2 separate regions of the Homo sapiens genome follow, and region 2 is linked to region 1. The links come from fine-mapping of genetic effects on gene expression. A gene starts in region 1. The other region holds a variant in brackets. All regions are shown on one strand. Distances are between the middles of the regions.

Region 1 (2,911 bases):
ATAAGCATCAGCTATTATGACAAGATTGCTATTTGTTTGCCTTGCCAAAAATAAAACATTGCCTTTAAATACATAGGTGTTTGAGATTTTCTATTTCTTGGCAGTTTGTGATCATCCCACAGCCATGCTCTTACTGAAGACCTTTTATTACTAGGGGGCCTGTTATGGATTAGGCAGAAAAATAGGTAAGACTCCTCAGGAGTAAATGCCTCCTTGTCTTTTACCCATCTAGAGAGAATGTCAGTAAGTGCAGAAGTCTCTCTTGTGTACCTAACTATATGAAAGTGGCCTGAAAAAGCTAAAACTGCTGTTTGACCATGGTGGTAGAGGAGCTCAGAGCTGGTAGTTAATTTGCCCTGTGTTATTTCCACTGAACTTCATCACCTCCCTGCCCACCTGGTCGCTGCACACTCCACCTGGTGTTGAATGCATTGTTTTGCCTATTTCCCCCTCTGTCAGGACTTAGGACATAAGATACAGAATTACTATAAGAAACTCCTAGGTGGTTCCAGCACTAGGACTGAGAAATCTGCGCAGATAAGGCAGGCTTCAGCGCAGCTACAAGACGCCGACTTGAGGCCAGAACCACCAGCGACTGAGTGTCATGTGCCTTAGTCACCGCGGGCTCCGCAAAAGGCTAACAGTGCTGGACACCGGGAGGGCGCTCAAATCTTTGTTGAATAAATGTCCACACTACACAACCTGTTTTGAGTCAACTGCATCCCAACCCAGAAAATAATCGAGATATGTTTGAGCTGAATCAGTATCATTTTGCACATATAAAATCTCTCTTGCCTTGAGTCTGCAGGACTAGAACAGTTTAAAAAGTAAGCCTCGTTGGTTTTCTTTTTTTTTTCATTACTCCGACTTTTATAATTTGGGCTTCAGCATGAGTATCAAAACGGCAGCAGAGCAGAGTGAGACTTTTCAAAGTCTTGTCGCAAAGATACTTCGTGGTGAAGGGCTCCAGTCCCGCTTTTCCGCGCTGGGGTTCAATCCTAGGCAGCCGATTCGGGTTGGGGAGATGTCTCGGCCGCTCCCCCTAACCTCTTGCTAGGGAACAGTCCCTCCCCGCTCCCCATTCCACCTCCACCTGCTGGAGAAAAGATCACAGGTGGTAGGGTGAGGGTAGTCGGAGCAGCCCCGGTGGACGCTTACACGGGCCATCGCGCTCGGCCGCTCCCCGCCTTTGCAAACTGTGTGCTAGGGCTCCAGGCGGGCCCGGGCAGCAGCGGCGGCGCGCGCACGCGCACTCCGCGGCCCCGCGCGGCTCTTCAACATTCAATTCCACGTGTTGCTTGTTGTAGGCGCCACAGGTTCCCCACCTGCGTCCGGGCGCTCGGGCGGCTCCGCCTCTGCCGGCGGGCTCTGGGGAACCGCTGGGTCGGCGCGCCCGGGGCTGGCGGAGCAATTCCTGAGGCGCCCAAGCTCACCCCCAACGCTAACTCCGCCTATTCAGTCCCGGCGGCTCCCCCTCTCCCCCCTCCCAATCCTCCTCCCGGCTCCTGCCCGCCCCTTTCGCCCTGGTGGTAGGAAACACTCCTGAATCTAACTCGACGTGTCCGGAAAGCCCTGGCCAGTTTTCCTTTCGTTCTGCGGCCGCTGCAGCCAGCCCCGCGGCTCCCTCAGACCCGCGGGCGCAGCCGCCGGGGGTGAGGCGCTTGGGGACCGCGGGCCGAGCGGCGGGGATCCCCGAGCACCATGCTGGACCCGTCTTCCAGCGAAGAGGAGTCGGACGAGGGGCTGGAAGAGGAAAGCCGCGATGTGCTGGTGGCAGCCGGCAGCTCGCAGCGAGCTCCTCCAGCCCCGACTCGGGAAGGGCGGCGGGACGCGCCGGGGCGCGCGGGCGGCGGCGGCGCGGCCAGATCTGTGAGCCCGAGCCCCTCTGTGCTCAGCGAGGGGCGAGACGAGCCCCAGCGGCAGCTGGACGATGAGCAGGAGCGGAGGATCCGCCTGCAGCTCTACGTCTTCGTCGTGAGGTGCATCGCGTACCCCTTCAACGCCAAGCAGCCCACCGACATGGCCCGGAGGCAGCAGAAGGTGAGTTGCGGGACCGGGCGCCTCCTACCACCACTTCTCCCTGGGTTTTTCTCCCGGGAGAGCTCTGGGACGCCTCCCGTCCTTCTGCGAAACGCAGGACACCGTATTTTTGTTAGTCTCTGAGGGCAGAGGAATCTTTGGGGACAAGACGGTGCTTTCACCCGCCGGGTATGCGGCTGCAGCGGACACCTCTTCTCCTCCTCCCCGCCTGGGCTGGCAGGAGCTGTCAGCTCACCATCCGTGAGACAGAGACCGACAGCGCCGGCCGCGCCGCGGTTGCACCCGGCAGGCGCAGCTCTGGCCGGATTAGAATGCAACTCCCATCAACTTTAATTTCCAACAGCACTGGTGCATTCCTGTCCACCTAGCCTGGCGTGATATTGCTAGAGCTGGGTTTGCCGAGGGTCTGAATGAGTGTTGTAGCTAGGCGAAACAGGTGGAGCCCGAGTACTTCTCTTAGCTAGAGTGAAGTCTTCACTTAAGAGGGGTAGAAATTTTCCTCAGTGAATAAAAAAGTTAAATTAATACGTTTCCTATATTGTCATACAACCAGGACATCAAATCCAAACACCGAGAAGGCATGCAGCTTTGTAAAGTGTTTGTGGGTAAGTAATTTCTGGTCTGGGCAGGCCTGATTAATGAAATATACTATTACTGATGAAAGATAAAGGATTGGTGCATGATCACTTCATAACAAATGCTTTCCAAATGCTTTTTTGGGGAACAAAATGCTTATTCTCCCCCAAAAGGTAAGAAGTTTGTTTCAGGTGAAAGGCTGGCCAACTTGAGTTTCAAAACAAGACCCCAGGGGCCTGATGTTCTGTACCAGACACGAGTAATGACTCAAATTGTCCTAAGTGGTTAAATGTTT
Region 2 (2,911 bases), 260 kb after region 1:
TCTCCTTGAGAGAACCCTAATGGTTTCATCAGAGATGTTGATAGAGTGGAAAAAACATGGAGAAAGAAGTAAAGCTGATGGGGTTGGAAAGCAAAATATACCTCTAAAAATAGGATACCTTTTGATGAAAATATTGACATAGATTGAGCAGGTTTAATTGCTTTCCACTTCAAGTTCACCAAAGTGAAGCCGTCTTAATGAAATATTTTTAAGCCTAATAACAATTGACTGACCTTGCTGAATTATTTTCTGACAATAATCCTACAAACCTTGTAAGGGCAGATGATATCATGAAGTCAATTTTATAGAAGAGGAAATTGAGGCTTAGACAAGATTATTTATTTCACCATGATTACATAACAAATAAGTGGCTGAGGCAGGCCTCAAATCCTGGCCTTGCTTCCAGAGCCTGGGCTCGCTCTCTTAACATCCTGCTGCCTCTGCAATCTGATCATTCCAGAAGAGTGGTTAATAAACAGCTATTAGTTGGCATTCAGGAACACCCCCTCCCACACTTCACAGAACAACACAATATAATAACAGTGAAACTACAGGGCAAAATCTCTGTTTCAAGAGACATGTTGACTTTAGTACTTCAGCCAAGAGGTAATTAGGAAGTAGTGAACAAAATGTGTACAGGGCCAGAAAGACCTGTGACCAAATTCATGATAGCTATTTTCTAAACATAATAGTAGGCACGTTACTTAACACTTTCGAGCCTCATTTTTTCTATCCACAAATTAATTGACCAAATATTTATTGAACACCAACTATACAGCCAGGTGCAGTCTTAGCTACTTGGGATACATTGGGATAAAATGAGACAAAAATATTTCTGCCAGGCCCTGGTGGAGCTTACATTTTATTTGCGATAGCCCCACAATAAGGAGTAAACATGCCGTGTAATTGAATTATGGAAGGTGATCATTGTTACTTAGAAAATAGATCAGAAAAAGTGGGATGAGGAGTGTAGGAGAGAGGTGGTGGGTGGTTACAGTTTTCAGTCAAGTGGTCAGGGCAGGCCAGTTCTTGATAGTACAATCCTTCCAGATATTCAGGCCAAAAAACTTGGAATCATCTTTGACTCCTTTTTCTCATACCTCATGCAAAACTTATCAGGAAATCCTTTATCTTTACCTTCACAGTATTTCCAGAATGTGACAGTTGTTACCATCCTTCCCTTTCCACTGTGGTCCATTCATCTTTGTCTCTTGTCTGGATCATTGTTCTGTCCTTTTAGCCAGTCTCCTGGATTCTACCCCTGTCCTCATTAACACAACAGCCAGTGATGTTCTGCACTAAATCTGTGATGATTCCCTATGTTGCTGAGAAAAAAA[G/AG]AAAAGTTCCTAAAATGGCCTGCAAAGTCCTGTGTGATCTGGTCTTTGTTACCCCAGTCCTGTGTGATCTGGTCTTTTTTACCCCTCTGACTTTATCCTCCACTAAACTCTTGCCCTTGCTCAATCCACTTTGGCGATGGTGGCCTCCTTGCCTTTCCTTGCCACAGGGTCTTGGCCCTGACTCTTCACCTGCAGCGAACTTCCACTGACATTTACATGGCTTTCTCCCTGCTGTAGTCAGGTTCTCCAGAGAGACAGAGCCAATAGGAGATTATATCTGTATTTTCATATATCTAGACCAATATCTAGGTAGATATAATAAATATGTATATAATATTAAAAAGTAGATGTTATGCATACATACATGTTATGTGTGTATATATATGTGTGTGTGTGTGGGAGGGCAGGGAGAGAGAGAGAGAGAGATTGATTGCGTTCAAGGAATTGGCTCCCACGGCTGTGGGCACTGGCAAGTCCAGAATCCATAGGACAAGTAGGCAGGCTGGAAATTCAGGTGAGGGTTGATGTTACAGTCTTAAGTCTGAAATCTGTAGGGCGGACTGGCAGGTGAGAAACTCAGACAGGGTTTCTGTGTTTTAGTCTTGAGGCAAAATTGCTGCTTCTTTAGGAAACCTTCGCCTTTGGTCATAAATCCTTCAGCTGAGTGAATGAGACCTACCTACAGATGTAGGAGGGTGATCCGATTTACTGAATTTACTGATTGTAAATGTTATTCACGTCTAAAGAATATCTTGATAGCAACATTTAAATTCATGTTTGATCCAACAACTGGGCACCATAGCCTAGCCAGACTGACAAACAAAATTAATTGGGCTAGATGCGGTGGCTCATGCCTATAATCCCAGCAGTTTGGGAGGCTGAGGCGGGCGGATTACCTGAGGTCGGGAGTTTGAGACCAGCCTGACCAACATGGAGAAACCCCGTCTCTACTAAAAATACAAAATTAGCCGGGCGTGGTGGCGCCTGCCTGTAATCCCAGCTACTCAGGAGGCTAAGGCAGGAGAATCACTTGAAACTGGGAGGCGGAGGTTGTGGTGAGCCGAGATTGTGCCATTGCACTCCAGCTTGGGCAACAAGAGCGAAACTCTGTCTCAAAAAAAAAAAAAATAATTAATCATCATACTTCCTTATCCACTTTTAGCTCAAAGGGCATCATCTGCTCATTGAGACCTTCCCCTACCACCCCGTTTAAAGCTGCAACCCTTCTCACCACTCACTCTGTGTTCCTCCTTCTAGACTTTTTCTCCATGCCACTTATGACTTTCTATCAGAAGAAATTATTTCCTTGTTTACTAAGTCTATCAGGACTTTGTCCATTATCTTCATGGTTCTATCCAGGGGCTTGGAGCAGAACACATAGCAGACACTCAGGGAATGTCTATCAAATGACTGAGTCTTACATGCTGGCATATTTGTGAGAAATCTGGGGCTGTGAAGAATTCTTGAATTATTTGTAGACTCCCTCCCTTTTCTCCCACTCAAAGGCATATTTGAATTGAAAGGAAGAGAGAATACCAATATGGTAAGGATAACTGAATCTGCTCTAATTTGTA

Which allele goes with the higher level. Positions count from the first base shown, and alleles are read on the strand shown. Sizes are in standard deviations (SD) of each study's normalised expression.
For the expression in pancreas of the gene that starts at base 1,579 in region 1, allele AG in region 2 goes with a higher level than allele G (small effect, 0.32 SD a copy in GTEx).

The links. PIP is the estimated chance that this variant, and not a neighbour inherited with it, causes the effect.
Region 2: its variant is the best candidate, but not a certain one, in a credible set for the expression of CADPS2 in pancreas (GTEx, PIP 0.51).

What each region holds. Positions count from the first base shown.
Region 1 is chr7:122,885,128-122,888,038 of GRCh38, reverse strand. It overlaps CADPS2 (calcium dependent secretion activator 2), which reads left to right and starts at 1,579. Exons shown (of 30, transcript NM_017954.11): 1 at 1,579-2,040. The coding sequence starts at 1,702. RefSeq lists silencers at 1,172-1,331, 1,342-1,501, 1,572-1,651, 1,662-1,711, 1,752-1,881 and an enhancer at 2,242-2,291.
Region 2 is chr7:122,624,608-122,627,518 of GRCh38, reverse strand. All of the region lies in intron 4 of CADPS2 (calcium dependent secretion activator 2), which reads left to right. Among named protein-coding and RNA genes, the nearest start is that of RNF133, 73 kb to the left of the region's middle. The variant G/AG (reference allele first, on the strand shown) is at 1,338.